2 separate regions of the Homo sapiens genome follow, and region 2 is linked to region 1. Evidence: fine-mapped expression QTL. A gene starts in region 1. The other region holds a variant in brackets. All regions are shown on one strand. Distances are from middle to middle. Region 1 holds the start of LAMC3 (laminin subunit gamma 3). Region 2 overlaps LAMC3 (laminin subunit gamma 3).

Region 1 (5,485 bases):
GTGCTGGGATCACAGGTATGAGCCACCGTGCCTGGCACTAACATTTTTAAAAATTATATTTAACCATTGCATTGATCTAAAGACGGGTATATTAATATCATACGTTAAAACATGTTCTTCAGCCTAAAAGTTCTTTTTTTTCTTCTGACTTTAAAGATATTAGAACAGTTTTTGTGGGTTCCTAGAATTCCTGTGGGCTGCCATGTTTCCTGTGCCTGATAGATGAATTTGCTTTGGATGGGTGCACAGCCCAGCTCAGGGTAGCTGCGTGGACCATCAAGAGTCTGCTGCAATCATGTTCTTGACCATAAGAGAAAACTTTAACAAAGAAGCTTCCATAACACCATCAAAAAAACAATTTGGAATTACATTAAATGATATTTTAACTTGGGGAGAATTTGTATATTTAAACAGTTGGAAATCCGTGAATATAGATGCTGGTCTCTTCAGGTTTTCTGTCTCTCAGTAGCATTTTATAATTTGATTCATTTATATCTTGCACATTTCATACCAGATTTATTATTAGGTGTTCTACCATTTCCTACATCATTGCTGGCATCAGTTTTTTGTTTGTTTTGTTTTGTTTTTGTTTTGTTTTTTAAAAAACAGGGTCTTGCTCTATTGCATAGGCTGGAGTGCATTTGCGTGACCTCGGCTCACTGCAACCTCTGTCTCCTGAATTCAAGCGATTCTTGTGCCTCAGCCTTCCAAGTAGCTGGGATTACAGGTGTGCCACAATGCCTGGCTAATTTTTGTATTTTTAGTGGAGATGGGGTTTCACCATATTGCCCAGGCTGGTCTCGAACTCATGACCTCAGGTGATCTGCCTGCCTCAGCCTCCCAAAGTGCTGGGATTACAGGCGTGAGCCACCGCACCCAGCCAGAAAATGCCTATTGCTGGCATTGGTTTTCGTACTCTATCCTGTAGTCAGCCATCTTACGGAGCTCTTATTAATTTTAATAGTCTTAGTAGAATCTTTTAGATTTTCTAGATGTATGTTCAGGTAAGTAGAAGATATAAATATTTATATCTTTTAAGTTTTTTGTCTTATTGTATTAGCTAGAACTTCCAAAATAACCTTAGGTACCAGTGGTGATATCATATACTAACTCTACTTAGATATAGTTCTGAAATCTCTAACTTATTCCATGGGTCTATTCTGTAGTCCTTTCCACAACCGTATTGTTTTAATCATGTGTAAATAACTGGTAGTGAATCAGCCCACTACAGTTCATCTTGCTTCCAAAAATTTTCTTTCTTTCTTTTCTTTCTTTTTTTTTTTTTTGATGGAGTTTCTCTCTTGTTGCCCAGGCTGGAGTGCAATGGCATGATCTCAGTTCACTGCAACTTCTGCCCCCCGGGTTCAAACAATTCTCCTGCCTCAGCCTCCTGAGTAGCTGGGATTACAGGCACGCACCGCCACACCCAGCTAATTTTTGTGTTTTTAGTAGAGACGGGGTTTCACTATGTTGGCCAGGCTGGTCTCGAACTCCTGACCTCAGGTGATCTGCCTTCCTCAACTTCCCAAAATGCTGGGATTATAGGCGAGAGCCACCGCGCCAGGCCAGGAAATTTATTTCTATTTTCCTTAGAGTTCGTCTGGGAATGGCTGCCTTTTTTTTTTTTTTTTTTTCGAGACAGGGTCTGACTCTGTTGGCCAGGCTGGAGTGCAATGGCATGATCACAGCCCACTGCAGCCTAACCTCCCGGGCTCAAGGGATCCTTCCACCTCAGCCTCCCAGGTAGCTGGGACTACAGGCTTGTGCCATGACGCCGGGCTAATTTTTGTATTTTTTTGTAGAGATAGGGTCTCACTATTTTGCCCAGGTTGGTCTCGAACTCCTGGCCTCAAGTTATCCTTCCGCCTCCACCTCCCAAAGTGCTAGGATTACAGGCGTGAGCCACCGCGCACGACCTGGCTGCTAAATTTTATCGAATGACTTCTCTCCCTCGATTTGCTAATGTTAATAAATGGGGAGTAAAGGGGGCATTTATGGGGGTTGGGGCAGAAGACAAGGAAGCCCTCTCTGAGGTGACATTTGTGATAAGACCAGGTACCCTTGTCACAAATGTCAGGTTAGAATCTCTTTGCTGTGGGGACAGAGCGCAGCCGGCAGCAGGAGTGCTTTTCAGGGTTAAGGGCGACAGGAGCTATGCGGAGCCATCTCACAACCCTGTCCAGGGCACACTTTATTGCTAGGAGGAGATGCGCAAACGGTAGCGATCAGTTAGAGATAGATCCTCTTGTCCCCTTTTATCTCAGGACTCCAAGGCACTGCTGAACAGTTTCTGTTTAATGAGCAGCCATTGAAGCCTCCCAATGGCGAGAATGAGCCTGCATCTTTACCGACCCCACTCCACAGACGAGGAAACTGAGGCTCAAAGAGGCCCGGGTCGCCTCTGGGGCAGACTCCCGAGCCGCGCACTGCCGGGCACGTCCAGCAGGTGGGAGTGGGCGCCCGGGGACGGCGCGGTCCCTGGTATTTTTAGTGGGGTGGGGCCGCCGCCGCCCGCCCCTCCCTCCAGCCTCCCCGCCCCGCAGGGGAAGGCGGGTCCTGGCGGCCAGCGCGCGGTCCGCGCCCACCCTAGCCGAGCGGGGCCGGCAGAGCGCGCGGCGTCGGTGCCCTTGACCATGGCGGCGGCTGCGCTTCTGCTGGGGCTGGCGCTGCTGGCACCGCGGGCGGCCGGCGCGGGCATGGGCGCGTGCTATGACGGCGCAGGGCGCCCGCAGCGCTGCCTGCCGGTGTTCGAGAACGCGGCGTTTGGGCGGCTCGCCCAGGCCTCGCACACGTGCGGCAGCCCGCCCGAGGACTTCTGTCCCCACGTGGGCGCCGCGGGCGCGGGGGCTCATTGCCAGCGCTGCGACGCCGCCGACCCCCAGCGCCACCACAACGCCTCCTACCTCACCGACTTCCACAGCCAGGACGAGAGCACCTGGTGGCAGAGCCCGTCCATGGCCTTCGGCGTGCAGTACCCCACCTCGGTCAACATCACCCTCCGCCTAGGTAAGCGCGGGCTGGGGGCACCGCCACCGCACCCCGTGTCCCCACTCCACTGGGGGTCTGAGGCTGAGGCCTGAGCTGCTGTGCGCCCAGGTTGGGCTGCAGGACCCAGATATGGTGTTGGATGGAGGGGCTCAGAAATAGGAATTAGGCTGGGTGCGGTGGCTCACTCCTGAAATCCCAGCACTTTGGGAGGCCGAGATGGGAGGGTCGCTTGAGCCCAGGAGTTCAAGATCAGCCTGGGCAACGTAGTGAGATCCCATCTTTACAAAAAATAAAGAAAAATAGGCCGGGCGCGGTGGCTGACGTCTGTAATCCCAGCACTTTGGGAGGCCGAGGCGGGCGGATCACCTGAGGTCAGGAGTTCGAGACCAGCCTGGCCAACATGGTGAAAACCCGTCTCTACTAAAAATAGAAAATTTGGCCGGGCGTGGTGGTAGGTGCCTGTAGTTCCAGCTACTCAGGAGGCTGGGGCAGGAGAATCGCTTGAACCCGGGAGGTGGAGGTTGCCGTGAGCCGAGGTCGCACCACCGTTCTCCAGCCTGGGCAACAGAGCTAACTCCGTCTCAAAAAAAAAAAAAAAAAAAAAAAAAAGCTGGGCGTGGTGGTGCACACCTATGGTCCCAGCTACTCAAGAGGCTGAGGCAGGAGGATCACTTAAGACTGAGAGGTTGAGGCTGCATGAAATATGATAGTGCCACTGTGCTACAGCCTGGGCTACAGAGTGAGACCTTATCTCTTAATAAAAAGAAAGAATGAAAAAAAGAAGAAAAAAAAACAGGACCTGTACCCCTAGATAGCCAGAAGGATAGACTGAGGGGTGCCCCGTGGGGCGGGAGAGGCAGGGAGTCACTTGCTGAGCTTTGGTTCTAGGTTGCAATTATAATCCCCTGTAATGGTTTTCCATCCTAGACCAGAACTGTTGGGGAGGTGACACACCAAGGACTGAATTGGTCACCCTCTAGGGCAGGGGCTCCTGATCTTGGGTCTTCTGGTCAACTTCAGGTATTCAGTGGACCCCTGAAGCTGCCTGCAGTCCTCGGGTGGGTTCTGGAAGATAGAAGCTGTGATGTTCATCACTGCACAGGCAAAGTTTAACCCTCTGGGGAGGAGGACTAAGTTTCTTCGTGCTGCTGGGCAGCTGCGCCCGGTGGCATGGCCTCTCTGCCCTGCTCATGACTTGCCGAGGTGCAGAAGCCCTTAGATCTCCAGGAATCAGAATCTGGAGTCTGGACCCAGCCCCGGTTCTCAGCCCCTGCCCCCACTGCAGGGAGCTGGAATGCTCTCTCCTCCCTCCGTGTTCAGCCCGATTCCCATGTCCTCTGTGGCCGGGTAAGCGCCAAGTGTCTTTCCTGTTGCAGCCTCCACTGCCCTTTCAGGAGGGGCTGGTATCACTGGTTAGACTCCCTTATCTTCGAGGTCAGCCTCCCAAAGCTTTGAAAACTCAAATTATTTTTATAACTCATTTTTGCTGCTAAACCTGACCTGAGGCTATTTATAAGCTATGTTTATGCTAGTGAGAATGAATATTCATTCGCTTTGCTACTGAAATCTCATTTGAGTACAGCCGGCAGCCCCAGACCCCACTGGGGGTATTAGCACAATATATGGTATAAGGCCTGCATCGTCTTTCTAAAAGCTGAAAAATGTTCAATTCCCAAACACATTTGGAGCCTAGGAGTTTGGATTAGGGATGATGGGACTGTATCCCATGTTTCAGCTGAGAAAATTGAGGCTCAGAGAGGTTGTTTTGCCCAAAGGCACAGAGCTGCTAAGTGAGCATCTGAGCGTGGACATCCATGGACATCAGAGGTCAGAGCATAAACTCTTTGATGTGAGTTCCGCCACCCATCAACTGAGTCAGCTCCACCTCAGCCTGGTGACAGTGTCCTGGGGAGGGCTGGGAAGTGACATTGGAGTGGGGTGCGGGGAGGACCGTGAGCCCGCTCTGCAGAGCACACAGGTACTGGCTGCCACCTCAGAAACTCCCTTCTTCTGGGGCCACGTCACCTTCTCTCAGCCTATCTGGATCACTAGGTGGGGCTTCTGAATGGGACGAGGGGGAGGGGACAGGAAGCCAGTGGGGAGGGGGGAGGCTGGGGGAGCTGTCTGGATGGAGCTGGCAGGACCCCAAGGCCACAGGGGAAGGAATCTGGGACAGGGTGGGGAGTTGTTGGGGAGACACAGTGCTCCATGACAAAGGGTATCACATGTGTCCTGGGAACCCAGGGGCCAAGGAAAGAGCTCAGCCCAGGCACAAACAAGGTGGGAGGAAGTTGGGAGAAATGGCCAAGTTTTTGGATTTGAGGTAGTTCCTGTTTACTGTGCATCTACTGTGTGCCAGGCCCTGTGCTGAGCTGTGCACCCTCGTGGAACTCTGCCTAGAACCTTAGAAGCAGAGTGGTTCTGATCCTTCTAAAAGCAAGGAACCTGAGAGCCTCCACACTGTGAATGTAGAGAGCGAACACACACACACATACAC
Region 2 (5,000 bases), 31 kb after region 1:
AACTTCTGTCCATTGCAGCCGATGCCTTGGGCCTGGCCCTGCCTCCTCTCCCTGCACACCCGAAGCTTCCTCTTCCCTGCTCTCCCTGTTCCCAGCCCTCCCCTAACTGCAGCTAAGGCTCTTTTCTTGAAACACGGCCTCACTCTGTCACCCAGGCTGGAGTGCAGTGGCCCAATCATAGCTCACTGCAGCCTCGAATTCCTGGGTGCGTGTTCCTCCTACCTCAGCCACTAGAGTAGCTGAGACTACAGGCACATACATCACCATGCCAAGCAATGTTTTATAGAGCTCGGCTCTCACTGTTGCCCAGGCTGGTCTTTACACTCCTAGGCTCAAGCAGTCCTCCTACCTTACCTTCCAAAGTGCTGGGATCACAGGCGTGAGCCATGGCACTGGGCCAAGACTTTCTAAAGGACAAATTTAGTAACATCTATTCCCTGCTTAAACCTTCCCACGGCTCCCCCTTTGCTCCCAGCTAACGTCCACTGACCACGGCAGCCCAGCCTCCCTGGAGCAAGCTCTGCTAGCCTCTGACTTCACAACTGCCCCTGCACTGCAGGCCCCCCACTGCACAAAGTCCTTCCTTCCCTGCCATCACACGACATGCCGTCTGCAGCCAGCCTCATGGCACACCCGCACCAGGCCACGCGTCTGTCTCTGCATGTGGGGTATCCCCTGGGCTTTCGCCTCCTGTCTGCGACGCCCTTCCCGCCCCCTCTTCCTCTGCCTGGCCTATTCCTCACTGCTCAGCCTTCAGATTCAGCGCGGCCATGACTTCCTCTCGGAAGCCTTGTCCCACCACCCCAGCACAGCTGCAGGGGCCCCTTCTTTCGGCTCCCAAAGCCCCCAGCCTCTCCTGTCTCAGCCCTGCACCTGCAGGGGGTTTGCTTGCTTGCCGTCTGGGCTGTGGGCAGCACGAGGGCGGCAGGTGTAAATGGGTCCGCACCTTTCATGGATCCACCCCTGAGCTCACTCTGGGAGCCAAGACAGAGCCAGTCCTGCACACAGACTTTTAAAAATGATTTAATGGGGGAAATGAAAGGTGACTTGTGCTTTCTGTACCCCTGAGTGACCTCACACAATAGTGAGAGTCACACTATTATGGCTTGGAGGACCTCCAGGAGATTTTGGAGAGAGCCAAGCTGCCACTCCAGAAGGCAGCCAGCCTCTGATCGGTGCCCATCTATCTGGGTGTATATCCTTGTTGCCTGGGATGGTCTTCTTTCTGCCTGTTGTTTTGGTGTATTTACTAACAGTGTCCCCTTTGCTCTTAAGAGTGTCCTGTTTTGGAAAATCAATTGATCAATGTCTAGCCTTGATCAAGCTGGGCCTGAACTCCATTCTGGACCATGCTCTTGCCCTTCTCTTTGCACTGCCTGCTCATTTAGCACAGGGAGGCTGACTGACACAGATGCAGCCTCCTACCACATCACAGGGGACTCACACACCTTTCCCCACTCCTGCCCATAGCCTGCAACTGCAGTGGCCGCTCCGAGGAATGCACGTTTGATCGGGAGCTCTTCCGCAGCACAGGCCACGGCGGGCGCTGTCACCACTGCCGTGACCACACAGCTGGGCCACACTGTGAGCGCTGTCAGGAGAATTTCTATCACTGGGACCCGCGGATGCCATGCCAGCCCTGTGACTGCCAGTCGGCAGGTGAGTGGACTCCACATCCCCAGCCTCCGACCCTCTCCCTTTCCTGGCCTCAATTGCCCTGTGCCCTTCCTCTCCCAGGCTCCCTACACCTCCAGTGCGATGACACAGGCACCTGCGCCTGCAAGCCCACGGTGACTGGCTGGAAGTGTGACCGCTGTCTGCCCGGGTTCCACTCGCTCAGTGAGGGAGGCTGCAGGTGAGGGCGAGGGGCGGCCCAGTATGGACACATTGCACTGAATGACAAGAAGCAGGAGGAACAGGCTGTCAGCAGTCCCTCCCCTCCCCATCCCTTCCTGTCTGCAGCTACCTCGCCCTAATCCTGGTGAAGACTAGAGACACTCAGCTCCTGGAGAGGCCAAGAGACAAAAACAGACCTTAATGAGACCAGGCTGAGCCCTGTGGAAGCTCAGCGGATCTTGCAGGTGGAGGGCAGGCTTCCTGTAGGAGGTGCTGCATAAGTGCAGGGAGAGGGGAAGGACAGGTGTTTGAGGTGGGGTGGGGGGCACGGGAGGCCTCTGGAGGAGCCGTGGATCAGTGAGAAGCAGGAGTGGGTGAGGGGGAGGCTGCGTGGAGGCTACAGCAGGAACGCCTGGGCAGCCTGCATGGGGGTTTGACTGTGGAGAGGGAGAGCAGGGCAGATTCCAGAGCCCAGTGCAAGGAGGAGCTAATAGGACATGGTGACCAGGGGGTGGAAGAGGAAGAAGAGGTGGAGGCTGACCTTCGGGGTTCTCTGGGCCTCTGGATAGCAGGGCACGCAGTGTGGGGAGCGGGGTGGGAGAGGCTGAGTGTCATCTGGGTGCACCGAGTTTGGTACCTAGTGGGACAGCTGAGGGGAGAGAGGGACAGGGGCTCCTGGGGTCTGGACCTTACCCCAACACATTTGCCATCACTTGATTGAGAAAGTATACAATGGCCAAAAAACAAAAACAAAACAAAACAAAAACCTATGATAAATTTAGAAGCTTTTTTTTTTTTTTTTTGAGACAGATTCTTGTTTTGTCAACCAGGCTGGAATGCAGTGGTGCCATCTTGGCTCACTGCAACCTCCACCTCCCCGGTTCCAGCAATTCTCTGCCTCAGCCTTCTGAGTAGCTGGGATTACAAGCATGCACCACCATGCCCACTATCTCTATTTTTTTTTTTAAGATGGAGTCCTCCTCTGTCACCCAGGCTGAAGTGCAGTGGCGCGATCTCTACTCACTACAACCTCCGCCTCCCAGACTCAAGTGATCCTCTCATCTCAGCCTCCTGAGTAGCTGAGATTACAAATGTGCACCACCACACCCGGCTAATTTTTGTATTTTTTGGTAGAGATGGGGTTTTGCCATGTTGCCCAAGCTGGTCTCAAGCTCCTGGGCTCAAGTAATCCACCCTCCTCGGCTTCCCAAAGTGCTGATTACAGAC[G/A]TGAGTCACCGCGCCTGGCCCAGAAGCACTTTTAAGTGAACTTGCTTTGGTTGATAACGGGCATCTTTGTATATTTGAGAGGCAGCAGAAACACATTGGGGATATCTAGGAGAGCTCTGATTCCTTGTAAAATATTTGGTGGTTCTGGGCATAAAACTGACCATGAGATGGGGCCTGGCTGCTTCCCTGGGGTCCCTCTGTCCTCTGGACCTTTGCAGGTGCCACACCTCCCACCCCTGCCCCCTCTCCCCAGCCTGTGGCTCACAGCCTCCTGCTCATTCTTCAGGTCTCAGCTGAGCAGCCCCGCTCTCGGGACACCTTCCCTCCCACCTGCCCCTCGCCTGCACACCCAGGCTGAGTCAGAGGCCCCACAGTGCAGGCACAGCCTCTCGTACATCTCCCACAACACGTATCGCGGTACAGGGTCTGCGTGATCTGTCTGTCTACACCAGACTGGGATTCACCAGGGAGGAACCATGTCTTATTAGATGAGTGGATGGATGGAGGGAGGGATGGAAAGATGCATGGATGGGTGAATGAATGGGTGGATAGGTGGCTGCTGGACAGAAAGAAGGAAGGATGAATAAGTGGATGGAGGAGTGAGGGGATAGACAGAAAGATTCATGGAGGCCGAGCACGGTGGCTCATGTATGTAATCCTGGCACTTTGGGAGGCCAAGGCAGGTGGATCACCTGAGGTCACGAGTTAAAGACCAGTCTAGCCAACATGGTGAAACCCTGTCTCTACTAAAAATACAAAAATTAGCTGGACATGGTGATGCATGCCTGTAGTCCTAACTACTCAGGAGGCTGAGACAGGAGAATCACTTGAACCCAGGAGGCAGAGGTTGCAGTGAGCCAAGATCATGACACTGCGCTCCAGCCTGGGTGGCAAAGTGTGACTCTGTCCCAAAAAAAAAGATTCATGGATGATGAGTGAGTGCGTGGATGACAGATGGAAGGATCCTGGATGGATGTGTGGTGGGTGGGAAGATGGACCACTGTACCAGTGATGGATGGGTCACTTCCTTGGCAAGATGGGAACAGTAAAGCCAGGTCAGTTACCTGCGTCAGCCTCACTCCTGATGTTGGCAGCAGGGAAAGCTCCCTTCCTAGGATGGGCTGTTGCCATTCTGAATTTGCTCATTGCACATTTTCCTCTTGTCCTGTCTCATTGGCAGACCCTGCACTTGCAATCCCGCTGGCAGCCTGGACACCTGTGACCCCCGCAGTGGGCGCTGCCCCTGCAAAGAGAATGTGGAAGGCAACCTATGTGACAGGTTTGTGAGCTAATCCAGCAGTAAGCTTGCTGGAAGTGACCTGGGGGCTCACTGATGAGGCACCAAAGCTGTGGAGTGCGGGGAGGAGCAAGGGGCACGGTCTTCATGGACTTGGGTGACCTTGTCACCCTGTGCCCTTCCTGGGGCACCATGTATCTGTCATACAGGAAGTTACTCAAAAGCTTTATGGCACTGTTTGTGCTTTGATTCAACACCACTGATCATTCATAAGCTGAGAAAATACATGTCTTAGCTTAGAATCCTGAAAAGAAAGAACTGGAATGATAGGAGAGACCATCTAATCCAGGGATAGTAAATAGATGGTGCTCGTACTACCACCTGCTGTGGCAGACATCGCTAATGGAGCACTATCACAGGCCTCCCGTTTCACACTCACTGCAGACATAGCTAATGGAGCACTATCACAGGCCTCCCGTTTCACACCCACAGCAGACATCACTCATGGAGTATTATCAACGCTCCCCTTTCACACCCATGACAGACACCACTAACGGAGCACTATCACAACCCTTTCACACCCACGGCAGACCTATCACAGCCCTCCCTTTTCACACTCAATAGACATTACTCATGCAGCACTGTCAATACACCCCTTTCACACCCACAGCAGACATCACTAATGGTATACCCATGGTAC

Evidence for each region.
Region 2: its variant is fine-mapped to the expression of LAMC3 in whole blood (TOPMed, PIP above 0.99).

What each region holds. Positions count from the first base shown.
Region 1 is chr9:131,006,582-131,012,066 of GRCh38, forward strand. It overlaps LAMC3 (laminin subunit gamma 3), which reads left to right and starts at 2,593. Exons shown (of 28, transcript NM_006059.4): 1 at 2,593-3,006. The coding sequence starts at 2,634.
Region 2 is chr9:131,037,394-131,042,393 of GRCh38, forward strand. LAMC3 (laminin subunit gamma 3) reads left to right here. Exons shown (of 28, transcript NM_006059.4): 5 at 1,471-1,659; 6 at 1,738-1,855; 7 at 4,244-4,342. Among named protein-coding and RNA genes, the nearest start is that of LAMC3, 31 kb to the left of the region's middle. The variant G/A (reference allele first, on the strand shown) is at 3,064.